5 separate regions of the Homo sapiens genome follow, and regions 1, 2, 3 and 5 are each reported to be linked to region 4. The links are microRNA targets in miRTarBase. Many come from high-throughput screens and were not tested one by one. Region 4 holds a microRNA gene; each other region holds the end of a gene's coding sequence.
The links. The annotated mature microRNA hsa-miR-6814-5p reads UCCCAAGGGUGAGAUGCUGCCA and lies in region 4 at 3,525-3,546, shown strand. An mRNA with a match to its seed (bases 2 to 7 or 8) in the 3' UTR can be bound and repressed. Matches are read on the target gene's strand: a 7mer-m8 pairs with bases 2 to 8, a 7mer-A1 pairs with bases 2 to 7 and ends in A, and an 8mer does both.

Region 1: miRTarBase lists LAT2 as a target of hsa-miR-6814-5p. The part of its 3' UTR that is shown has no 7-base or 8-base seed match.
Region 2: miRTarBase lists PAGR1 as a target of hsa-miR-6814-5p. Seed matches in the 3' UTR shown: 7mer-A1 at 3,968-3,974 and 7mer-m8 at 2,638-2,644.
Region 3: the mRNA of JRKL is a reported target of hsa-miR-6814-5p. Seed matches in the 3' UTR shown: 7mer-A1 at 3,663-3,669.
Region 5: the mRNA of USHBP1 is a reported target of hsa-miR-6814-5p. Seed matches in the 3' UTR shown: 7mer-A1 at 1,102-1,108.

Annotation. Positions count from the first base shown.
Region 1 is chr7:74,224,217-74,229,308 of GRCh38, reverse strand. It overlaps LAT2 (linker for activation of T cells family member 2), which reads right to left. Exons shown (of 14, transcript NM_032464.3): 13 at 4,549-4,670; 14 at 1-365. The coding sequence ends at 4,567. Among named protein-coding and RNA genes, the nearest start is that of LAT2, 17 kb to the right of the region's middle.
Region 2 is chr16:29,818,712-29,823,811 of GRCh38, reverse strand. PAGR1 (PAXIP1 associated glutamate rich protein 1) reads right to left here. Exons shown (of 3, transcript NM_024516.4): 3 at 1,323-4,257. The coding sequence ends at 4,058. It overlaps MVP (major vault protein), which reads right to left and starts at 3,350. Exons shown (of 15, transcript NM_005115.5): 1 at 3,302-3,350. MVP-DT (MVP divergent transcript) reads left to right here and starts at 3,445. Exons shown (of 4, transcript NR_186424.1): 1 at 3,445-3,628; 2 at 4,211-4,272. RefSeq lists enhancers at 2,627-2,916, 2,379-2,945, 3,637-3,706.
Region 3 is chr11:96,391,670-96,396,769 of GRCh38, reverse strand. JRKL (JRK like) reads right to left here. Exons shown (of 2, transcript NM_001261833.2): 2 at 3,209-5,100. The coding sequence ends at 4,546. Among named protein-coding and RNA genes, the nearest start is that of JRKL, 4.2 kb to the right of the region's middle.
Region 4 is chr21:41,745,261-41,750,360 of GRCh38, reverse strand. It overlaps MIR6814 (microRNA 6814), which reads left to right and starts at 3,520; the gene lies at 3,520-3,589. It overlaps RIPK4 (receptor interacting serine/threonine kinase 4), which reads left to right. Exons shown (of 8, transcript NM_020639.3): 4 at 1,158-1,207; 5 at 3,590-3,748; 6 at 4,499-4,602.
Region 5 is chr19:17,245,586-17,250,685 of GRCh38, reverse strand. It overlaps USHBP1 (USH1 protein network component harmonin binding protein 1), which reads left to right. Exons shown (of 13, transcript NM_031941.4): 13 at 272-1,515. The coding sequence ends at 461. NR2F6 (nuclear receptor subfamily 2 group F member 6) reads left to right here and starts at 4,767. Exons shown (of 4, transcript NM_005234.4): 1 at 4,767-5,100. RefSeq lists enhancers at 986-1,934, 1,935-2,884, 3,834-4,783 and silencers at 4,047-4,126, 4,527-4,776.

The DNA of each region.
Region 1 (5,092 bases), not on the chromosome of region 4:
TCCAAATTCATAGCACAAAAGAACACAGATACCAGTGTTGGACAGTGGTTTTGTTATGGGGACTGGGTGACAGCTTATCCTAAATCCTGCGCATCCGTCCATACCAGGAGCCGGGTTACCCTTGGTACCAGGTGCCTGCCCCACAAAGCCTGGGTCGGGAGAGGGCTTGGTGACGGGCCTGCAGCTCCCGTGAGTAACTGTCTTTTCCCAGGCTGTGCACGCATGGCCAGGTGGTCCTCAGGGTGGCTGGTTCTCCTTCCAGGAGCAACCATGGCAGGGGCTTAAAAGTTGAGTAGCTCTGGGAAATGGTCCTTGGAAGGCAGCGATGGGTCCATGAGCACAGTGGTCCCTCTTTGCCTTGGCTCCTTAAATGAAGAGGAAAGTTTGTAGAAGGAGGTTTGCCTTGATCAGTATTTTGTTCCTGAGAACCATAACCACTGGTTTGGGGACACCATTGAGCCTGCCTCCTGGCTGAGAACAGAAGCCGCACATCAATAACTGGGTTTCTTTTTTTTTTTTTGAGATGGAGTCTCACTCTGTCACCCAGGCTGGAGTGCGGTGGCGCGATCTCGGCTCACTGCAAGCTCCGCCTCTCAGGTTCACGCCATTCTCCTGCCTCAGCCTCCCAAGTAGCTGGGACTACGCCACCACGCCCAGCTAATTTTTTTTTTTTTTTTTTGTATTTTTAGTAGAGACAGGGTTTCACCATGTTAGCCAGGATGGTCTCGATCTCCTGACCTCGTGATCCGCCCACCTCGGCTTCCCAAAGTGCTGGGATTACAGGCGTGAGCCACCACGCCTGGCCCATTTTGTTTGTTTGTTTTTGTGTTTTTGAGACAGAGTCTTGCTCTGTCTCCCAGGCTGGAGTGCAGTGGCGTGATCTCGGCTCACTGCAAGCTCTGCCTCCCGGGTTCACGCCATTCTCTTGCCTCAGCCTCCCAAGTAGCTGGGACTACAGGCGCCTGCCACCATGCCCGGCTAATTTTTTGTATTTTTAGTAGAGACGGGGTTTCACTGTGTTAGCCAGGATGGTCTCGATCTCCTGACCTTGTGATCCGCCCGCCTCAGCCTCCCAAAGTGCTGGGATTACAGGCGTGAGCCACCGCGCCTGGCTTTTTTTTTTTTTTTTTTTTTTTTTTTTTTAAGACGTAGTTGCCCAGGCTGGAGTGCAATGGTGCGATCTTAGCTCACTGCAACCTCCTCCTTCCAGGTTCAAGTGATTCTCGTGCCTCAGCCTCCCGAGTAGCTGGGATTACAGGCACACGCCACCACACCTGGCTAATTTTTGTATTTTTAGTAGAGATGGGGTTTCCCCATGTTGCCCAGGATGGTCTCGAACTCCTGACCTCAGGTGATCAGCCTGCCTCAGCCTCCCAAAGTGCTGGGATTACAGGCGTGAGCCACTGCGCCTGGCCTCTTCTTTTTGTTTTTGTTTTGAGACAGCGTCTTGCTCTGTGGCCCAGGCTGGAGTGCAGTGGTGCAATCACAGCTCACACAGCAGCTCAACCTCCTAGACTCAAGCTATCCTCCCGCCTCAACCTCCGAGTAGCTGGGACTACACGTATGCGCCACTACACCTGGCAAATTTTTGTATATTATGTAGAGACAGCGTTTCACCATGTTGCCTACCCCTGTCTCCACTGCTGCCACCCCTTGCCCAGATGGCACCAGTGCCTGGGTCCTTCCTGGGCTTCCTGTACCCACTCTCCCAGTACCCATTTGTCTGCCCAACAGCCAGAAAAATTGAATTAGAAACATCCAGCCAGTCTTTGTACAAAACCTTCCCATTAGCCAGGCATGGTAGCTCATGCCTGTAATCCCAGCACTTGGGGAGGCTGAGGTGGGCCGATCACTTTAGGTCAGGAGTTTGAGACCAGCCTGGCCAACATGGTGAAACCCCATCTCTACTAAAAATACAAAAATTAGCCAGGTGTTGTGGCGTGTGCCTGTAATCCCAGCTACTCGGGAGGCTGAGGCAAGAGAAACCTGAACCCAGGAGGCAGAGGTTGCAGTGAGCCGAGATCACGCCACTGCACTCCAGCCTGGGTGACAGAGCGAGACTCCCTCTCAAAAAACAAAATAAAATAAAATAAATACAAATTGGCCGGGTGTGGTGGCAGACACCTGTAATCGCAGCTACTCGGGAGGCTGAGGCAGGAGCATCGCTTGAACCCAGGAGGCGGAGTTTGCAGTGAGCCAAGATTGCACCATTGCACTTCAGCCTGGGCGACAGGAACGAAAAAAAAAAAAAAAGAAAAAACAACCTTTCTATCTCCCTCCCTCCCTCCCATCTCATGCAGTAAAACCCCAAGTGCTGGCCCTGCCTGGTCAGCCTCCCCACCAACGGCCTCGACCTCCACTAGTTTCCCCTCACCTGCTCCTCCCTGGCCCCTGGCTTTGCTCAGACCTGTGGGGCTCACTCCACCCTGGGGCCTCTGTTGTCCCCTCTGCCTGGATGTCCTTCCCCCAGATGGGGTGAGGAAGGGAGCTCTGAAAGGCTTCCCTAGCCGCCTTCCTTAAATTGCAACACTGCGTCTTGCCCACAACCCCACACTACTTCCTGCCCCGCTTCCCTGTTTTGTTTCTCTCTGCCAGACTTACCACCAGTGAACATGCCATGTCTTCTTATCTGTTTTCTTGTTGTTGTTGTTGTTTTGACAGGGTCTCACTCTGTCATCCTGGCTGTACAGTGGTACAATCATAGCTCACTGTAGCCTTGAACTCCTGGGCTCAAGCGATCCTCCTGCCTCAGCCTCCCAAGTAGCTGGGACTACAGGTACACACCACTATGCCCAGCTAATTTTTAAATTTTTTTTTTGAGATGGGGTCTTGCTCTGTTGCCCAGGCTTGAGTGCAGTGGCACGACCACAGCTCACTGCAGCAACCATGGCTCATTGCAACCTTGACCTCCCAGGCTCAAGTGATCTTCCCACCTCAGCCTCCCAAGTCAGTGGGACTCTAGGGCATCCACCACCATGCCTGGCTAATTTTAAATGTTTTTATAGAGGCTGGACATGGTGGCGTGTGCCTGTAATCCCAGCTACTTGGAAGGCTGAGGCACGAGAATCGCTTGAACCCAGGAGGTGGAGGTTGCAGTGAGCCGAGATGGCGCCACTGCACTCCAGCCTGAGTGACAGTGATACTCTGTCTCAAAAAAAAAAAAAAAAAGTTTTTGTAGAGAGAGAGGTCTTGCTATGTTGCCCAGGCTGGCCTCAAACTCAGAGGCTCAAAGGATCCTCCCGCCTCAGCCTCCCGAAGTGCTGGGATTTATAGGCATGACCGCTGTGTCCAGCCCTATCTGTTTTCTCTCTCCTACCAGAATGCAAGTTCTAAGGGGTCAGGGGTTTGCTGTTCTTTATGTTGGTGTTCCCAGCACCTAGAGCAGGACTTGCCCGTAGCAGGGGCCCAGTGGATACTGGTTGAATGAATGACGTGGGGCTCTGCACATTTGGCTCAAACTCCTGCACCTGCCTCTGGGGCTGACTCTTGACCACCCAGGTTCACTGTGGTTTCCACCCTCCAGCCTGCTCGCTGAGATGACGGCCTGGGTCTCCCAGATGGGGACTTTGGGCAGCCTTCAAGGCCCTCTGGGGGTCCATCGTGCTTCCCAAGCAGTAGACCCAGCCTAGGCTTTGATGTCTGATGTCTGACCACTGGGGATTCCATCTCCTCCTCCCCTTACTTCAAGATGTGGCCTTGGGCAGGTGGCTTAACTGCTCTGTGGCTTTGGGTGCTAAGAGATGGTGCACGTGTGAGCGCTTAGCGCCGCACCATCTCACTGGCCTGCGGTGGCTCCTCAGCGCGTCTCAGCCACTGTTACATTTCCCAACGTCCCTGCCTCCTGTCTGTTTCCAGCATTGACCGAGTGCCTGCTGGGCTGAGGCTTTGTGTGCAATGTCTGTTTTTTTATTTATTTATTGAGACGGAGTCTCGCTCTGTCACCCAGGGTTGAGTGCATGTGATCTTAACTCACCGCAACCTCCGCCTTCAGGGTTCAAATGATTCTCCTGCCTCAGCCTCCCAACTAACTGGGACTACAGGCACCCACCACCATGCCTGGCTAATTTTTTGTGTTTTTAGTAGAGATGAAGTTTCACCATGTTGGCCAGGCTGGTCTCGAACTCGTGACCTCAGGTGATCTGCCTGCCTCGGCCTCCCAAAGTGCCGGGATTACAGGCGTGAGCCACCGTGCCCGGCCGTGTGTGCGATGTCTTCTCTGAGAGGTGGGCACCAAGTGAGGAACTAAGTTCTGGGAGGTTGTCACTTGGTCCAAGGTCGCAGCCAGGAGGATGCAGTGGAGTTGGGAGACCCACCCGGTGCCCACTTCTTTGCCCCTGAAGTCACCAGAATTCCCTGCCTGACGCCCCTGGCCAGAACAGAGGAACAGAGTCGCCAAGCTGCCCTCTTGGAGCACCCATGGGTGCACCCTGTAGCCCCCACCATGGCCCCTCCACCCACACTCTCGGCTGTTCCCTTGGATTGGGGGTCCTGCAGCTTGGCAAGACCTCCAATCCTTGGCCCACGGCAGCTGGAGAGCAGGGGCTGTACCTTTCTTCTTGGTCTGCCCTAGGCTTCTGTGGCTGCCACCTCCCCATTCACGTAATCCGGTTCCCCGTCCTCCTCGTCTGGGCTTCCCACCGGGCCAGGGGATGCTTCTCTCTGGAGTTGCCCTGTGGACCAGCGGGCAGACAGGTCATCGAGTGGTTCACATGGAGACACCCATGACTGCTCCCCCAGACTCAGACCCCCAGACTCCACAAAACAGCCCGCGGGAAATGCCACGCCCGACAGGTCCTGGCGGTGTGTGTCTGTCCTGTCTCTGGGATTTGCCGGAGATCGTCCTGCTGTGAGAGCAGGTGAATGCGTTACTCCATGCATGCAGCTGGATGGGGCGGCCTGCCCGGGAGGACCTGACCCCACCCTGGAGGCTGGGCGGCTGCCAAGGGCCGTCCTGTGTGGTTCAAGGTCTCTGCAGCTGCTCCTGCACCCAGGCATCACTGCGGGGTTAGCTGGACTGGCTGGAGGGAAGCCCACTTTCAGCCTGCCCTTCCAGGCCAGTCCCTCAAGCCTGCCCTAAGTGGACCACCCTGCC
Region 2 (5,100 bases), not on the chromosome of region 4:
GGAGTGCAGTGGCACGATCTCGGATCACTGCAGCTCCGCCTCCCGGGTTCATGCCATTCTCCTGCCTCAGCTGGGATTACAGGCACCCACCACCACGCCTAGCTAATTTTTTTTGTATTTTTAGTAGAGATGGGGTTTCACTGTGTTAGCCAGGATGGTCTTGATCTCCTAACCTCGTGATCCGCCTGCCTTGGCCTCCCAAAGTGCTGGGATTACAGGCGTGAGCCACCGCGCCTGGCCTCTGACTCTTAATATATATCCAGGATTGAGAGCCAGTGGGAAAATGTCACTCCAGCAGGTTTTATCACTGCCAGCATGCTCCTGGGCCACTTACTAGCCTCTGAGCCTTCCTCTCCAGTGAAGTGAGAATAAAAGTGACTGTTGACTAGGCTTGGTGGCTCCCACCTGTAATCCCAGCACTTTGGGAGACCAAGATGGGAGGATCACTTGAGGCCAGGAGTTCAAGACCAGCCTGGGCAACATAGGGAGACCCTGTCTCTATAAAAACCATAAAAAATATTAGCTAGGTGTGGTGGTGCACACCTGTGGTCCCTGCTACTTTGGAGGCTGAGGTGGGAGGATCGCCTGTGCCTGGGAGGTCAAGGCTGCAGTGAGCCGTAAATGGAGCACACGAGTGCGCTCTAGCCTGGGCAAGAGTGAGGCCATCTCAAAAAAAAAAAAAAAAAAAAGAAAAGAAAAGAAAAGGAAAAAAAAATGACTGCTCTTCAAGTCAAAGGTATTAGAGACTGGAGGGTCTCTGGTGCACAGTAGGAACTGGGAGGAGGATAAAGATCAGTTTCAGGCCGGGCGCAGTGGCTGTAATCCCAGCACTTTGGGAGGCCAAGGCAGGCGGATTGCCTGAGCTCAGGAGTTCGAGACCAGCCTGGCCAACATGGTGAAACTTCGTCTCTACTAAAAATACAAAAATTAGCCGTACATGGTGGCAGGCAACTGTAGTCTCAGCTACTCGGGAGGCTGAGGCAGGAGAATTGCTTGAACCAGGGATGCAGAGGTTGCAGTGAGTCGAGATTGCGCCATTGTACTCTGGCCTGGGGGACAGAGCGAGACTCTGTCTCAAAAACAAAAACACAGCTCCGATTGCAGGCTGTGAAGGGCAGGGAATTGCACTCATTCTCCTCCAGCCCCTTCCCTTACCCAGGTCCAGGCAGCCTCCTTTGTCCCCAACCCCAGGGCTCTTGCTCCAGGCAGTCCTGAGGTTGGACGTAAGGTCGGTGATGCGGCCCTGCCCCCAGACCTTCCCACAGCTTCAGGTTCAGGAAAAGGCACATGAAGTTTGGTATAAACAAGGACACAACTTCACAGAGTTTCTCACTGATTTAAGTTAAATATTCTAGTCTTTAGAGAATGGGTCACATGACTCAGGAATTGCCAACAGCCTGTTTTCACCCAGCGGCTTCCTGGTTTACCCCCTTTAGGAGATGATTAATGGAAATTGAGAATGTGTCTCATAAATTACTTTTTTTTTTTTTAAAGCAGCACAGTTTTAGGAACTTTTCGAGACAGAACAGCTCAGCCAGCCTAGACTTCCACTTGTCCTCCCTCCTCCCACTCCTGCCAATTAACACCAGTCACCAGAGGCAAGAACCGCCTAGATCAGAAGCGACCCCAGGAACCAGGCTTCAGCACCCCTGATCTTCATCAATATTTTCTCAACTTGCCTAATCATAGGACTGAGCTATAATTCTTTAAAAAAAAAAAAAAAACAAAACCCCAACCACACACACACAAACAGAGACAGGGTCTCGCTATGTTGCTCAGGCTGGTCTGGAACTCCTGGCCTCAAGCCATCCTCCCATTCGGGCCTCCCAAAGTACTGGGATTACAGGCCTGAGCCACCGCATCCAGCCCTAGGCTGGAATTCTTAACCCCACTCCTGCTGCTTTTTGCAGGCCTCACTTCTGACTCACTGGGTCTAAGTTTCCGGGAGAGAGCCTCTGGACCCTGTGTTCTAGGCAAACGCCCCTAAGTAACAGCTCCCACTTCAGATGAGCTTAATCTGTGCCAGGTAGTGTTAAGTGCCCTCAATTAACTCATGTTATCCTCACAAGAACCTGCAAGTTAAGAAATTTGCCCAAGAGCACACAGTTATCAAAGGACGGAGCCGGAAGTCCAACCTGGCTATAACTGTAGAGACCACAAACTAGGAGGCAGTGGCTTCTCAGGCAGAAACACAAAGATTCTAAGCCGAGAACAAGAACTAGAGGACCTGGGTGGGGCTGTGTACTGCCCAGATGGTGCTAATGGCAGTTCAAAGGTGAGTGTTTCCTGTAAGTTGGGCCAGCGCCCAGCCTCTGCTCCCCCAGAACCTGGGAGGGCAGCACCCAAGATAACCTGAGCACCCCGTTACCTTGGAGCCCTGAGGCTGTCTCTGGGCCACCCACTCAAGGTGGCCCCCCTACCTGCTCAAGGCTACATACAGAGGGCTGTCCTGCCCAAACAGCCACACCCGAGGGCCGACCCAGTGCTCTGTGTGCCAAGGGAGTTTCTGGCAGAGCCACCTGATACCCCACGTGACAGCTGGCCTCTCCCCCATCACCCAGGGGCTACCCAGGCAGAGAGCTGAGAACACAGGGGCCATCAGCCTCGCTATCACCTCCACCCCCAAGTGCTTGGCTCCCCAAGGGACAGCTCTAAAATCCCCAGAATCTCAGGCTGGTGGGTCCAGCTGAGCATCCTAGTTTTCACTTTCTCCTCCCAAAAAGGAAAGAACCTTGGTCACTAAATTCTACGCCTTCTGGAAATCACTCTGCTAATGACTTCCTGAATGATCGACTGAGACCAACAGCTGGCCCAGCCCTGCATGGAGGAGTAAGAAACCCTCATCTGTCAGAGTTAAGGGGCCTGAATGGGTACAGGTCACATTCTTGGAGCTCAAGGTGACAGGCCAGAGCCCAGGTCCCCAGGACAGTGCAGGTGAGTAGAGCAAGCACCGATCTAGGGCTAAGATGGGGTCTGAATGACCCTGTAAGGTTCCCCACCTGATTTCCCAGGTGGGACCCTGAAGTCAGAGAGAGGCCTGAGAGTTGCAGGGGGGTGGGGGACCGGTGTTGGTGTTAATCTGCCTTTACTTCAAAACCCAGAAGACTCCCAACTATTGGAAAGTGAAACCTCCAAAAGCAAAGCCACCACCCATCCTCCTTCCCCACTCTGATTCAGACATGTTTTCCCTGCCCCAGCAGAAGCAAGGCCCTTCAAAGCAAGACAGGACTAAAGAGAGCCTCAAGGGATACAAAGATCTGCCCCTGATTTGGGGTTTGGGGGGCTAGTACAATGTACTCACATCTAGAAGTGCAGGTAGCTGCAACAAACGCCTCAGATGGGGAACTCTCACCCTGCCTTGGGGATCACTTCCCGGCAGGGCAAGGCAGGCCAAGCCCAGGGGTGGGGCTTGGGAGTTAAAGGGCCCGTGTGCAGCTGGTTCTCATTTTATCCTCCGGGCTGCTTCTGCTGCAGCTGAAGGCACACTGCTCCCTGAGTGCTCATGGGTTTCTACCTTGGAGCCAGCTGGCTGCACTGGAGTGGGACTGGGAGGAGTTGGAGGGCCCGAGATGGGACAGGTGCTAACTGAGGGCACCTCTACCCATCTGGCTTTCATTTTCCAATCTGGGTGAGTACAATTCTGCCTCTCCCTTCAAGTGGGGCCTAACTGTTGAGCTACAGCTACAGCCCCTCCTTTTAAGAGATGATAGCTCTGCATCTTTTATTTCAGACTCAGAAAATTCAGTCCAGGTCTCTGAATAGGTGTTCAATAGAAAACACACACTCACACACTCTCTCTATATAGATGTTCAATAGAAAACACACACACTCTCTCTATAGGTGTTCAATAGAAAACACACACACACACTCTACAGGTGTTCAATAGAAAAAACACACACACACACTCACACTCTCTCTTCCTCTTTCCCGCAACGTGCTGTTTGGGAGCTTGAGGTTTCTCTCTTCTTCCCAAGTTTCTCAATGTCTGGGCTGGGGAAGGAGGGCCCAGGCTCCAGCAGGTACGGACACTGCACCCTAGAGGCAGGAGCAGTGGGAATCAGTATTTCCGCTGCCGAGGGAAGAGACTACTCCCGGAGGATCGGAGTGGGGGGCTGGCGGGGCTGGGGTCCTCCGAGTCCAGGCTGAAGAGGTCCCTCCCGGTACGAAGGATCTGCTCCTCCAGCTTCTTGTGTCTCTTCATGTCCGACAGCACCTTGTCCAGGCGGGCCTCCCGTTTCTGGCTCCGGGCTGAGCTTCCTGGAGAAGAGGAAGGTAAGATACATGGAAGGGATGGAGGTGGTGTACACCATACCTGCCTGGACCTCACTCATCACTTGGGGAGCTGGTTAAACATGCAGGTCCCCAGGCCTCTGTCTTGGAGGACCTGAGGTTCAGGGTTGGACCTCAGAGAGGGTGAGAAGCAAAGATCTTGATTGACAGGAAGGCACAGGTAATGTGAAGAACAGGGAGGAACATACTGGGCAGGGGAATGGCAAGGGTAGAGGCCCCAGGACAAGAACAGAGTTCTGTTCAAAGAAGAGTGCAGGCCGGGCATGGTGGTTCACGCTTGTAATGCCAGCACTTTGGGAGGCTGAGGTGGGCAACTCACGAGGTCAGGAGTTTGAGACCAGCCTGGCCAACACAAAAAATTAGCTGGGCGTGGTGGTGGGCGCCTGTAATCCCAGCTACTTGGGAGGCTGAGGCAGAAGAATCGCTTGAACCCGGGAGGTGGAGGTTGCAATGAGCCAAGATCGCACTACTGCACTCCAGCCTCGGTGACACAGCTACACTCCGTCTCCCCTACTCGCCAAAAACAAAAACAAAAAAAAGAGTGCAGAGAACTGGAGGTGGCGGGAAAAGCGCTTGGATTCTCCTTTGACATGCTCTTCCCTGGCAAGATGGAATCCCTTGGAAAATTTTAAGTGGAAAAGTGACACGATTTATGGCTGAGTGCAGCAGCTCACGCCTGTAATTCCAGCACTTTGGGAAGCTGAGGCAGGCACTTTGGGAAGCTTTAGGTCAGGAGTTCAAGACCAGCCTCGCCAACATGGCGAAACCCCCTCTCTACTAGAAAATACAAAAATTAGCTAGGCGTGGTGA
Region 3 (5,100 bases), not on the chromosome of region 4:
CCCCACAACAGAGAGTTATCTGCATCATGATAACCCTGAAGTTAAGAAGCCCTTCTCTAGAGGAAGTGGCTGGAAAGAGCCAGAAAATTAACGTTATTTGCTCCTTGCTGTGTTCAGCAAATAATACAAGAAAGAAGTGAGCTCAGAAAATTAGTCAGTTATAAGCAAAATAAAGCATACCTTTATTCTGACATTCAGTTAAATACCTTGGCTTAGAGAAAGTCCAGAAATCTGGGGGCTTTTGTAGGTTTCAAAAACTATTTCTCCAGACTACAAACAGTAGGAAGGAAATAAGACTGAAAAAGCAAAGCCTCAGTAAGACTTCTCAGTTAAACAAATGGATTCATCCCTGCAGCTAAGATTAAATTAAGGTTTACTTTCCCAACCAAATGTATCCTTTAGATGATCTCTTGGACATTGAGCTAGTGTCTACGAAAATATCTTAAGAATTACAAAACATCATGAAAATATTATTTTTGAAGGCCAACTCAGTTGTTGCCATCTCTACTTCTCATATCAAAATTATTATACCTCCTTATGCCACTCATCAGAATTAGTCTTTCATTTGCACTCTTCCAGTAACACTTAACTCATTCTCCCTTTCTTACATGTCTGTTTCCTCCTTTCCATTGTAAATCTCTTGAATGCAGATAGTCTTAGCCATATATCCCATACATGATCTAGAACATGTCTTATACATGATATACAATTAGTGTTTAAGTATATGTCTGTTGAATATATACTACTCTGCAAAGCATTGATCCCATAGTCTTTGATCTGTAGATGCTTATATTCCAGTATTAAGAGACACAACCACAAGAATCACTTTACAATATGGCAATTCTTATAGAATCTGAGGCACTACAGACACTCATTTTCACATTAGGTGTCACTGTGGAAGAAACTGCTATTGGTCATTCTTCCATCCCAACTTCTTCTTTTTTTTTTTTGAGATGGAGTCTCACACTGTCGCCCAGGCTGGAGTGCAGTGGCGCGATCTCAGCTCACTGCAAGCTCCGTCTCCTGGGTTCACACCATTCTCCTGCCTCAGCCTCAGGAGTAGCTGGGACCACAGGTGTCCACCACCATGCCCGACCATTTTTTTTTCTTTTTCTTTTTTTTTTTTTTTTTTTTGTATTTTTAGTAGAGACGGGGTTTCACCGTGTTAGCCAGGATGGTCCGGATCTCCTTACCTCGTGATCCACCCGCCTCCGCCCCTCAAAGACAGGTGTGAGCCACCGTGCCCTGCAGCTTCCATCCCAACTTCTAATTGCATAGGACTGCCTGAGACTAATTATTAAACAAAGTTGTCATAGACTTCAATAGGAAAAACAGATAAGGGTACATATCTAAGAAGTGTAGTCCGTTAGTCTTAAAGAATTTGCGTGATGATCTTTTAAGGCTGAATCATAACAAACTAAATTTTAATACTTAAGTAGCAATAAGGATACCAAAGGAAAAAAAAAAAAAAAAGAAACCACTACAACTGCCCACTGGAGGAAATGGAGAGAAGAAAGGGCATGTGTATGCATTAGGAAAGGCTAAGAAGAGATACAGATAATAATGTTGCTACTTCAGACCAAGGCAGCTGAGCTGTATTTTGACACTTATGAGTGGCATAAGGAGGTATAATAATTTTGATATGAGTAGAGATGTCAACAACTGAGTTAAATAATTATTTGAACTTCTTAACCCATCTGGGTGGCTCTGACATTATGATGCTAATGGAGAGTTCACTATGGATGGGAAGCAAAGCATTAATTTTAATTTCCCTTCTAGACTAAGTCCAATTTCTCAATTGAATATATAAATCATAGAGCCAGACAGGGTGACTGGATCACATGCAGATAAGGGAAAAGGATGAAGTCACTCAGGAGCAGCAAAAATCAAGACCAATGCATAGCTTAGAATGTAAAGGGTATACAGAATAGAAATCAGAGGAGAAATGAATAAGCAACTAAATCTTGATGGTTTTTTTACATAGCTCACATCTTGTTATGTTGGTTCTTTTATATGAGCTTACAATTGAGGCAGATGGTTTTGGGGTTTTTTTTTTTTTCAAACATGTATAGTTTTTCCACCTTGATTTCAAGATGTTCAAGGAAAGCAACCTCTTCCCTTTCTTTCATATTTTCCTAAACCCACCACAGCTGGCAGTCTTCGACATACAGTAAAACTCAATAAATTTTTAATTTACTGGATTTCATCATGACAAAGAATTCAACTTTCTACAACCCCCTCGCCACAAAAAAGCCCAAATCTCTCAGAAAAAAAAGCAACATTATAATTTCCTACATGATCTTGTATTAGGTATATCTGCTCTCACAAAATTCTTGACTACTGGAAGTGTAAGAAACATTGCACTGTTATTGGCTTTCTGAGAGTATTGTGTCAAGGCATATCAATGAGAAAAAAATTCATGAAACTGGTGAGAGAACATAAGCCAATGGCAAATTTTTAAATAGATAAATAGAATGCCAAACACAGCCTCTGGTAAGGCACTGATAGAATAGGAATTAGGAGCTAAGGATATACAACTTTGGGGGCAGATACAGAACCCAAATAGCTTTTGGCTTCAACTGCTACAACTACTGATCAGCCTTTATAATTAAGGATAGAAGGATCCAAAACAGGGCTAGAGTACCAGTGTTGGCAGATTTCAGAGAATAGCTGTAAACCAAAGAAGAGCAGTCTCTTACAGGCTAGAGAAAGAGTCACAAGATTCACACTTATGGCCACAGAACAGTGAACCTTTTACTGGGGATTCAAGTTTAAAATCACACAGCTTAACAGTAATGTTAGTTTTACCACTAGGTGGCAATGACACAGCTGCATTGGGCTGACATGATTAATTTTAAAAACTGTGCAAATCCAGACAGAAATTCCAAGATCTGTAGTACATATTTTCATTTTAGAAAAATTATTTTATGTACAGCTTACTTTATAGCAGAACGTGTCATTATCTGATTCAATATGTATGTTAACTTCTGATGGTTTTTCACACTCTACACTGAGGAAATTCATGCAATAAACACTATTTTTAAACACTTTCATCACACATCTTCTGAAAAATATAGACATACACCTATCATGAAAATAAGAGAAATTATGGAAAACTAAAAATACTTTTGAAGTTTTAGTATTCTACAGAAAGCACTATAAAATGTTACGTATTTCAACAAAAAAAGTTAAACCTTTAAAAAATGACTAATAGAGAACAATTGTAATTTATTTTTTAAAAATTTTTGGCCAAAACATGAAATAGCATGGAAACACTTTACTTTTAAATTACAAGTTACATTAATATTCATATGTGCAAAGTAGTTTCAATGTCTTGAATAAACATACTTAGTTTACAAAAAAAATTTATCAAAATTCTGATTTAGATTACATTTTAGCAGATTAATCCCTTTTTATATGTATTAAAATAATAAACAATAATATTCCTTAGTGTCTGGCACTTTCAGTAATTATTTCTGCTTTCTTCATAAAACAGGATACAAACATATGACTTATTTAAAATCATAAAACTTTATTATTGTAATTTCCTTTTCTCATCAAAGGGCCAGATATGACAATATTTTTCAAATTATAGACAACATTTGTGAGTATGCAGTAAAAACACTAAAAAAAAAAAAAAAAAAACTTATTAAATCTCAAATTCCCAAGATGTTCCCCCATATAAGGTGGGAGCTCATATCATCACATGTAACATTACAAAACCTGTACTATAAAATTAGATGAATAAATAATAAACCTATACTATTACCAAATTCATAATAAAAAGATCAACTTACCAAATTAAAATCAGCCTATTTATTCCCTTTGTATAAATAACCTAAAGTTCCCCAGGTTTTTATTTCCCAGTTTCCTACAAATGAATTGATCAGAATGCCTCTTTATAGATCAGCTTTCCCATAGTTTCTCTCTCATTTGGCAATAACTTCCCATATTTACTTCATTTCCAGAATAATCTCCCCCTCTTGCAACCCACACAAATGTAAGAGAATGAAGGCATAATTTCTATAATTCATAATTATTTCCCCATTATTGAATTTCATTTTTGAATTATTATAAATCATCCTGAAATCTAATAATATAAATCTTTCTCATCCTATCAGTCTATTAAAATATACAAAACATCATTTAAGATGGTTAACACAAGAAAAGATAACTATGGCAGCCTTCATAAATCAAGCAAAAGATTTCAGAAAAGTGCTTCAGTCTGTTCAGTTATCTCTAACTTTCACTAGAAAATTAAGGGAATGCCACTGTTACAGAAGGTATAATTGCAGATTCTAAAAAGTGAATACATGTGTACATGTAATTTATATCTATTCAGTATCATCTTCTGATTATCTGTACAAATAAAAGGACAAAAGACACAGATGATGAAAACACATAATCCTCAAACCACTTCAGATACATTTTGTGCCTGTATTTCACAGGACCAAGTCTGAGAATTCAGAACACAAAGAAAATTAAGCCATATTGCAAAGAGTTTGTCACAAACACAATGAGCAGAACAATAAAATTGAAATGACATTATTGACTTGACTTTGTCATCTTCTGTTTATTTCTGATGGTGGCTCGAAGTTTACGTATTACCAGTCTATCAGGTAGAATCATATCACCTTGTTGTTCTAGATAATCCAATAAATTTTCAGTCCACTGGAGGGCAGCTGCATGATTAATATGTTTCTCTGGAATTAGTTCTATTTCCTCCTCCTCATTTTCACTGGATTCATCTGCCTGGCCTTGTGCTCTTCTGATGATTTCGCTATCAGTTAACACTTCATAGCCTGGTTCAGTACTGTCTACTTCAAGCCATTTTTCAAGGTTCTCAGTAGTCACATTTTCCAATCCTTTGGTGTGTTGTAAAATGGCAGCCACAGTAGCCACAGAAATATCTTCAACATCAAAGTCCAGGCTCTCTTTCTCCTCTACCATAGGGAGAATCTTCTTCCATGCTCTGCTAATGGTAACTGGTTTTACTAAGTTCCATGCCATTGCTATTTCATAAAGTGCATCCAACAGAGTTAGCTTCTTCCAGAATGATTTCAGGTCATTACCTTCTTCCAAGTTGTTCTGGAGAAGACC
Region 4 (5,100 bases):
CTAGTCCCTTCCTTTTTCAAATTGTAAAGGTCTTAATCACACAGACTTCTTGGAGAAGAAAAGTGGGTGGGAGCGTGTGAGCAGGCACTAAGCCTCCCATTGTGGCTGTTATCCAGCAGCACTGTGACTCGGACCCCGCATGTGAGCTCTGCCTTTTGGTCACTGCCGCCGCCAGCAGCCCAGGCTGACTGGTTTGACAGTGGCCATTGTGCATGTGCTTAGCTGGGGCTTTAAGCTGAGAGTTGCCTGGAAGTGTCACTTTGGAGACTAGTCACAGCTTGTAGAGTTTGGGGAGATTGAGATCCTCTCCATTTATTTTAGAGTTTGGAGTTCCAGCTTTTGAACCTGCCGTTTGAACTAATTTTCGATGGTGAATTCGTTGTCTATAAACAGCCCTCACCAACTCAGTGCTCCTTGGAGGCTCAGTTTTCGGACTTCTGTTTTTCTTTTCTTTTTTTTTTTTTTTTTTTTAATCAATTTGGGCACTTTTTTTGGTGTATCCAGAGTAATGTACATGAACGTATCCCTCATATTATCTATATATTTCTAAGCAGCCCCCGAAAAAGGCTTTGGGGCGTTCAGCTGTGTTGTCTCCTACGTTTTCTGCGCACTTTCTTTAACAACCCTCTAATGATGAACTCTCAGTGAGCCTCTGTTAGGAACGCTGAAATCTCAGCAAGCCTACGTTAGGAACGCTGATCAGAACCAGAATCCGTGTTTTCAGAGAATGAAATCATTGTTGGGGGAGGGCATGGGAGTTGCCCATCATTCATTCATCCATTTCTTCAGTAAATGCCTGCGCAGGTGCTCTGTGCCTGGTGCTTGCGAGAAGATATCAGTGAGGCACACAGGCGCTGTTCCCCAGGAGCTCACGCCCCGCATAGGGTGGCACCCTCTTTGGAAGTCCCTCAAGCTGCCTGAAGATTGTAGCCCAGTTGGCGAAGTTACTTGAGTCTGTCTGACATCTGAGCTATCAACATGCTGGGCTTCACTATAGAGAATTTTCTCTTTTTAAAAACAGGAGAAATATCTCGGTGTCATGGCTCTGTCTTTGGAAGGCTTCAGAACAGGTGTCTTCACGCCTGTTGCTGTGCATGAGTGCATTTGGCTTTGAGTCTCTGGCTGTCAGATGCTAACGTGCCTGGTTTCTCTTCCAGCTTTGCGATCGTCATCTGGGGCGTGCTCACACAGAAGAAGCCGTTTGCAGGTGAGTGGACCTGTCTTTGAGGTGTAATGTGCTTGTCTTTCCTGGAATAATGGGGGGACACCTTGTTGTCCTTTCTCTATCCTAAAACAGAGCCTGTGATCCACGCTGCCATAGGTGCTGCTCTGTGGTGTAATTTGCATGCAGGAAAAGACACAGATCTGAAGGGGCCTGTTCAATGGAATGTTTTTAGGTGCCAGCTAGTTTTTTTGTGGTAGTAAAATATATATAACATAAAATTGGTCATGTTAGCCATTTAAAGTGTATAATTCAGTGACATTAACTACACTGGCAGTGTTGAACAAGCGTTACCACTGTCTAATTCCAGAACATTCTCATCATGCTAGAAGGCAAAGCCCATGGCCATTCTGCAGTCCCTCGCCCTTCCTCCTGCTCAAGCCCCAGCAACCACTCACCTGCTTTCTGTCTCCAGGGGTTTGCCTGTGCTGGTATTTCCAGCTAATTCTTTTTTGTTTACTTTTTAAAAAAATAGTCATAAAATACACAGAACAAAACTTAGCATGTCAGCCGTGTGAAGCATACAGTTCAGGAGCATTACATGTACCCGCGTGCTTGCGCAGCCAACCTCCAGAGCTGCTCAGTGCCATGGAGTTGCTTGCAGGAGTGGCACCCCTGCCCAGCTTGAGAGCTGTGGTGTTTGCTTCCCCAGCCAGGCAGCCACCATTCCGAACACCATCCTCAAAGTTGTCACACCTTGACTTACTTATCATAAAAATCCAGGACTTTTTAGCTTTGTTGGACAGATTCCCTTTTCCTCTAAAGACATTTCTGGGCTACTCATGATATTTTGTGGTGTGACCGAAAATGTCTAAAAATGAAGATGAGAGTCAAGGCCTAGCCCCTTGTTAGTCGGGGCTCAGACTAGGAGCCGATGTATGGGAAAGTGCTGGGGTGAGAAGAGATCTTCCAGCATCGCAAGATCAAGTATCTTGGCAGCTTTAAAAGAATGTCAGTAGAAAGCACAGAACGCGTCCTGCCAGGCCTCTGCTGGCCGGTGTCCGTCTGTGTTGTCTGACCGCCTGTCGCCTTTCTTGCCTTCTGTACGTTCTCCCGCACAGTGGCCTACAGCCCGAAGGCTTGTGAAATGAGGCAGTGTCTGATAGATGTGACACCCGAAGCTAGGCGCAGGGGACAGGTCAAGGCTCAAGCCCTTGTGCTTTATTGCTGAATATGCCTAGTGTTCCCTTATTGGAACGCTAATCATATGGGAATTATTCGTGTCCTACTGTTCAAGGTCATCGCCAAGGTCTGATTTTTCAAATTCAAAAAATTGCAACCTCAGGCAAAAATGGGTAGGAGGGGGTTCAAGGTGCAGGAGAACAAGGCCTCTCCCCAGCTTTTCCAGTCTGTGCTTGGCAGCAGGAAACATTCCGGGCGTTTACTTCAGTTTGCTTCCATTTTATTTAGAGGAGCTGTTGGTTTTGAAGTCTGAATAATCATGGAAATAGCCTGCTAAACACTTAACGATATTTATTGCACAAGATTTAATGGGAAAGTGGAGCAAAACATTGTATGGAATCCTGGCAGCCGTGGGTGATTCTCGGCTGATTTTCCACACCTGCTGAGGCACATGGCCTCTCCAAAGAGCTGCCATTCCATGCGTGGGTGTGTTTGGATCTGGAGGGCAGAGAGGGCTGTTGGGAACAAGAACCTTGAGGGTTCCAGGCTAAGCAGAAAAAAGAACTTGGCCCACTGGATGTCACCCTGGGCCCTTCCCAGTCAGGGTAGAAGTTGTGGCAATAATAATAATAAGCTAGAGCCCATGCATGCTAGTGAAGGCAGTTGGAAAGGACAGGTGCGGCCCCACATGGTGAATTGAGGGGAAAGAGCCCTTCCACACATCCCAGCCCTGGTGCACCGGCAGGGGAGGCCAGCTGGGGACCTGAGCTTGGGATTGGAGTTGGAACTGAGGAAGACTTCTTCGCCATTGTAGAGAGAGTTGGGTCTCTGTGGATGTAGGACGCTGTGGCTCCTCCATGGTGCGTGAGCCTCATTCCCTTTGCTGGCTTGGGCTGTTGATGGAATGAGCCTCATAAGATATTGTTCTCCTTTGAACCTCATCTTCCTTTGGATGGGATGCCTAGAAAGATCTGCTCTGTGACCAAACACACTGACTCCTTCTGGTAGATCAGAACCCAGGGAAAGAGGTCGATTTCAAAACCAGGAAACTAGAGAGCATGGCGCACCATGAGGGTGAGGGTTACAGGAAGCTCTGCCTTTGAAACGGAGTGGGGGAGCCGTCTCCCTGGGGTGGTGTGGGGATGGCCCCATTGTGGCCCCCGGCGAGTGTGTCGTTTCCTCCCAAGGGTGAGATGCTGCCACCCAGCCCTGCAGAGCCCCTGACTCGCATCCTTCCCTTGGCAGATGAGAAGAACATCCTGCACATCATGGTGAAGGTGGTGAAGGGCCACCGCCCCGAGCTGCCGCCCGTGTGCAGAGCCCGGCCGCGCGCCTGCAGCCACCTGATACGCCTCATGCAGCGGTGCTGGCAGGGGGATCCGCGAGTTAGGCCCACCTTCCAAGGTGAGCACCCCGGGGTCTCCCCGCCACATTCTGTGGGTGTCACAGGAGACAGAGGTGACAGACAGGACAGGGTGAGGGACCAGGCCTGGGTGAGAAACAAGGCGTGTAACAGGTGGGCCGAAATGAGCCCTGCACAGATAGGTTGGACCCAGCACCTGCCTGCGGCCTCTGGTACTCACGGCTCGGCCACGGCAGCTGGAACTGAGTTGCCTCCAACCATCCGCCCCCTGCTCCCCACCAGGGTTGGGCTTGCCACCCAGAGGAGTCTGTATGGGAGCCTGAAGTTCAGGTGCAGCCATGCTCTTCCCGGGGACTTACCTGGCCGGTGGCCGGCGGCGTCGCCCTTCTCTTGAGGAGTTGACTTCCTGGGACAGATGTGTCTCTGGCATAGGAAAGTCACCCTGATGAGATGGAAACTGCTGCATTTAAAGCTTACGGCAGGAAACGGGCTGAATGGGGAGCTCATCCGCCAGGTGCTGGCAGCTCTGCTCCCTGTGACTGGCAGGTGGCGCTCCCCCGGGGAAGGCTTCCGCCTTGAGTCTGGTGAGGCCTTCAAATGATTACCGATGGGGGGGCCTGGGTTTGGCCAGCAAATTGTCCATGTAGGGCCCCTGGGCTTGCCTGGTGAGCTCAGGCTGGGCCGAGGCGTGTGAGAAATCCCCCAGCTCGTGGGGGCCCTGCGTTTATATGGAACGCGTGTGTACGCAGAAGTCATCATCCGAGTGACATGTCCCCTTTCTTCCCCACAAGAAATTACTTCTGAAACCGAGGACCTGTGTGAAAAGCCTGATGACGAAGTGAAAGAAACTGCTCATGATCTGGACGTGAAAAGCCCCCCGGAGCCCAGGAGCGAGGTAACGAGTCCTTCCCACAGGGGTCTTTTGTCTCCTCGGCTTCCAGGCAGGAGTTTCCAAACCACTCCTCTTTGCAGAGTCCCCCGCCGCCCGGACCACTCTCCCTCTCTTCTGAGCCCATCCCGCACCCAACTCCATTAGAAGTGTAGGTCCCATGGGGGCTCAGGTCCACCTGCCCGACTGCATCCCCGCCCCACCTCCTGTCTGATTCTGCGTGAGTGGCGGAAGGGCTTCCCTGACACTAAATAGCCACTCATTGGATGTGTGTGGACCACGGGGATCAGAAGGCCCAGCCCCGGCCGGGGAGGGAGAGCTGGTGTCTGAGTGTCTTTGCACCCCTGGCTCGGGGATCCAGTTCCTTTATAGCTGCCCATAAATGGTCTGCACTCTGATGAGTGCCACCCAGGTGATTTCAGATGTGATAAGAAGCTCCAAGTAGCAGGGCTGGCTAAATGCCTTTTCGGGTGATGAGGCTGGAGCAGACCTGTGAGGCCCAGC
Region 5 (5,100 bases), not on the chromosome of region 4:
CCAGCTACTTGGGAGGCTAAGGCAGGAGAATCACTTGAACCCTCGAGGCAGAGGTTGTAGTGAGGGGAGATCTTACCATTGCACTCCAGCCTGGGTGACAAGCGCGAAATTCTGTCTCAAACAACAACAACAACAACAACAAAAGACCAGCTAGCTGGGACCCTTGGAGACCCAATGTGAAAGAGCCCCCATTCTGGGAGTGGGAGTACACGGCCCTTGCCTTGGGTGGACTCGGGGGCTGTTTCCTGACCCAGCCACCCACCCCTTCCAGCGCCCTGGTCCTGGCCTTCCGAGGAGCCCACCGGAAGCAGGAAGAGCAACGCCGGAAGTTGGAGCAGCAGATGGCACTCATGGAGGCTCAGCAGGCCGAGGAGGTGGCGGTGCTCGAAGCCACTGCAAGGGCCCTGGGGAAGCCCAGGCCTCCCCTCCCGCCTCCCCAGCTTGGGGACACCTTTCTGTAGGCCCCTTACCCAGCCATGTCTGGACATGCCAGACAGCTGTGGCATGTCATAAACTGTCCTGGAGTGACATCATGTCATGTTGCATGATTTGGCATGTTGGGGCACATTTGGCGTGAGGGAAGCTGGTGCACATGGGTGTCCAGGGCCTGATGGGGTGTGGCCAGGCAATGAAGAAAGACTCAGGTGTCTTTGGCCTGGCACCAAGTGGAATGTGAACTTCATATCAGTGGGGTCAGGCCAGAAGCAACCTGGGCTATGGGACCAGGTCCCTGGGACTGACGCATTTCGGGGGTCCGTGAGGTTGCATAGCCACAGCTGAAGTTCCAACTGGCCTGTCTCCCGAAGCCCAGGGAGGGATTCATGGGGACTGGACAGAGCTTCTCCTGGCAGCCCCTTCCCAGGGAGATGCTGGGTTTGGCTGGCAGATTTTCCTGAAGGGGGCCGGGCTCAGTGGTGCACATCTGTAATCCCAGCATTTTGGGAGGCCAAGGTGGGTAGATCACTTGAGCCCAGGAGTTCAAGACCAGCCTGGGCAACATGGCAAAACCCCATTTCTACAAAAAAATACAAAAATTAGCCAGGCGTGGTGGCATGTGCCTATAAAGATATTTAGGAGGCTAAAGTGGGAGGGTAACTTGAGCTTGGGAAGTGGAGGTTGCAGTGAGCTGAGATCACGCCACTGCACTCCAGTCTGGGTCACAGAGTAAGACCTTGTCTCAAAAAAAAAAACAGGCCAGGCGTGGTGACTCATGCCTGTAATCCCAGCACTTTGGGAGGCTGAGGCGGGGAGGATCACCTGAGGTCAGGAGCTTGAGACCAGCTTGGCCAACATGGTGAAACCCCCGTCTCTACTAAAAATACAAAAATTGGCTGGGTGTTGTGGCACATGCCTGTAATCCCGGCTACTCGGGAGACTGAGGCAGGATAATTGCTTGAACCTGAGAGGCGGGGGTTGCAGTGAACCGAGATCGCGCCAACAACAAGATCGTGCCCGGGCAATAAGAGCAAAACTCTGTCTCTAAATAAATAAATAAAACACAAAACAAAACAAAAAGGAGGGAGACTGAAGCTGGAATGGTTCAGATTCAGGGTGTGGATGACGAGTTGCTACTAACTCAAAGCTAAGGTCAAGGGTTTCTGGACTCCATGTGGTCGAGCTTGCCTGTAATCCCAGTATCTCAGGAGGCCGAGGGAGGAGGACTGCTTGAGCCCAGGGGTTTAAGACCAGCCTAGGCAAAATAGGAGAGTCTGTCTCAAAAATAAATAAATAAAATAAGGTAAAGGGTTTCTGGGTGGGGGACAGGCATAGCAAAGGTAATAGTCTGGGACTCAGGGGGCGTTGTACTTCAAGAGAAACTCAGAATGAATGCCAATGGTGGCCAGTTCCAGCTTTCTCCTGGGGGCCCAGGAGCTGTGGGACGTGTCAGGTTAATAGCAGGCAATGAATTAGCATGTCATTTGCATAAGTCACATCTCCCTGCCCCTCCACACCAGGACTGGCTGAGTCTGGGAAAGGGGAGCTTGGAACGACCCAGCCAAGCTTGGATTAGTGGCCAGCTGTCCCCCTTCAGGGTGGCAGCTGAAACCCGAGACAGGGATTAGAAAGACTTTCATTCCCAGCCTTGGGGGCAGGTGCTCCAGGCCTCACCTGTGCAGGTGTGTTCACCGCCTCTCCCAGGGCAGGACCACGTCAGCCTGAGGTCAGCGCCAGTCAGCGGCCTGGACTTGAATCCAGTCAACCTGACCCCAGAAACAGAACAAGAAGTATGGTGGCGAGCACAGTCCCCTCCAGCGAGGGCTGGGGCTAGTCACCTTCCGACCCACACGCTGTCCCTGGACTTGGGCCAACTTTGAAGAAAGCAGGGAAATGGAGGCAGACCACCTTGCTCGTGTTGGGGTGGGGCAGAGAAGCTGAATTTCTTCCCTGTACCCTGCCGAGCCCCAGAGTCTAAGACCTGAGTTCCTGGTCCCACCAGGTTGCCTGTGGAGGGGCAAAGGGAGCCAAGGTCACATGTGGGAGGACGGAGACAGGTTCCCAGGCTGCCCCAGCAGGATCTGGCCATTCCCACGGGTGCCCCCTCAGCAGATGGGCCTAGGCCCCTTTGTCCCTGGTTTGCGGCCGCCGCAAGGTCAAATGTTACTGCAGGGCCGCGGGCAGGGGTCAGGGAGGCGGGGTAGAGCCTTGATCCACCCCCAGGCGGGCCCCAGGGGGCACAGGGGTGGCCAGGCTACTGGAAGGGGGTGGGGCAGCCTTTGGGACTGGAACTACTGGAGTTTCTGGGATCTGCGATGGTCTTTCTTCCCCCATCTCCCACCCAGCTCTCAGCTGCCTCGCAAGACTTGTCTCCCCCAAACCTAGTTCTTTGCTCCCTCCCCTTCACAATCCCCTCAAGATTCCTTGAGTCTTCTCTCCCTCTTCTTTTTTTTTTTTTTTTTGAGACAGGGTCTTGCTCACGCTGGAGTGGAGTGACGTGACGTGATTATAACCCACTGCAGCCTTGAACACCTGGGCTCAAGACGGGTCTCACTTTATTGCCCCGGCTGGTCTTGAACTCCTGGTCTCAAGAGATCCTCCTGACTTGGCCTCCCAAAGTGTTGGGATTACAGGCGTGAGCCACAGCGCCTGTCTCTCATCTAAATCTCTTTTCAATCCCTTCTGAGACCTCCACCCCAATGCTCCCCACCAAAGATCCTAGCAGGTCCAGGCAAGGGGCCTAGGATCCCTGCCCTCATCCCAAATTACCAGTCACATTCCCATGCAGCCTCAGAACCAAAGGGTCGTCTCTGCCCACCCACGCCTTCCTCTCTCCCAGCAGGGATTACATCAGGCTGTGGGCAGAACCCGACTCTAGACCTCGGGAAGTCCTTGCTCATGTCTAATCCTAGTCCTTCCTGCTTTTCGTGTTTACTAACGCCTCCTCCTCCACCTCCCAGGCAGCCAGAACGTCCCTGGAGCAGGTTGAGAGGCCCAGGGCTGGGTGTGCCTGGCTCTCCCAGAACCTCAGTTTCTTTTTAAGTGTTGTAAGATCTCTAAGAATCTTTCCCCCTACTCCAGGGAGGGCAATTCTTCAAGTCTCATCAGGGCTCTGGGAGGCAGAGGAGGGGGTGCGCAGAAGGCACTGTCCTGGCCAGAGCTCTCAGAGGCCCAGCTGCATGCTCTGGTGTCCAGCTCTGGGCTCAGGGCGGGGTGGGACCACAGTCTGGGTGGCTGGGGCTGCAAGACTCCGAGGTGAAAGGTCACTCCTGGAAGGGCTTGTCCAGCCGGTTAAAGGTTAACCTGCCCAGAGCCAGAGGCTCGCCAGCCCGGGCCTCGCATACAAAGGGTGCTTAATAAATGCTGGTCGGGCGGGCCCCAGCCCCGGTACTGGGGGATGGGGTGAGTTGGAGGTGGCGGCAGCTGCGAGGCTCCAGGGCGCCTGGAAGAGACATCTGCAGTCCAGCCGGCCGCCAGGCCAAGCCCTTTCTGCAAAGCACAGAAAGAAAAGGAAATTAAAAGGGAAAAAGGGGCAGGCCCCCAGACAGGGCATGCCTGTCGCCTCCAGCCGCGCGGGGCGGGTGGGCGCCCTGCCCCCGGAGGCCAGAAATTCTGCAGAGGGGCCCCCTGACCTCGCGGCCCCGGCCAGCCGGTCTCAGACCACAACATCCCTTCCCCCTGGAGATTCCGGGCACCAGGTGTTAACCCGAGCAGAGAAAGGGTGGGGTGGGGGTCAGACGCGGCGACTTTCTGGAAGAGGAAGCAAACACAATCTAGGGTGTGTGTGTGTGTGTGTGTGTGTGTGTGTGTGTGTGTGTCTGTCTGTCTCGCGCGCGCGTGTGTCTTGCGCAGGGGCGTACCCCCCCCCCGGGTGCCACTGGCCCCCCATCATTGCTTTGCCAGGAACTGTGGGGTGGGGAGAGGTTCCGAGGGGCGCCTCGAGGGTGATCGAGCGACCCAACGTCCAAGGCCAGAGGTGGAGGGGAGGGCCTTGGAGAGACATCTTGGCGAGGCTCAAGGAAGGGCAGAGGGCAGGCGCGGCTGAGGCTCCCGCCGCGGCCCGGCAGGGGTTAAGGCCCGAGCTGGGCGAGGGCGAGGGCGGGGGTGCGGGGGGAGGGGCAGAGGGAGGCGGGGGAGGGTCAGGCCCCGCGGCCCAGCGCTCGGCCCCCGTCCCTCCCGCCGGCCCGTTCGCCCGGCGCCGCGCGCGGCCACCCATGCCCTTATAAGGGCGGCCGTCGCCGGGGCAACGAGCGCCCGCCCCCAGCCCGCGGCGCGCGCCCCTGCCCCCGCCCCCGCCCCCCGCCCGCCCCGCGAATGGAACGCTGTGTGTCAAACCGGCCGCAGCGCGAGGCCGGCGCGCGGGGTCGGTGGCGGTGGCGGCGGCGAGAGCGAGGCTTGGGCCCAGGCGCAGGCCCAGGCCAGGCAGGAGCGGCCGCAGCGGGGGCGGCAGCTCCAGAGGCGCCGGCCCAGCGGCCCTGCAGGCCCGGAGCGGCAGCCGCGGGCGCCGGGGGACCCAGGGGGCGCGGCGATCAGCCCCGGCGCGCACCCGCCGCCCCTCCCCCCCCGCCACGGGCGGCCGCGCAACTTGCGGCCAAACTTTCCCCCCGGCCTCCCGCGCTCGGATGGCGGCCCGCTGAGTTGGCCGCAGCCCCCGGGCGAGCGGCG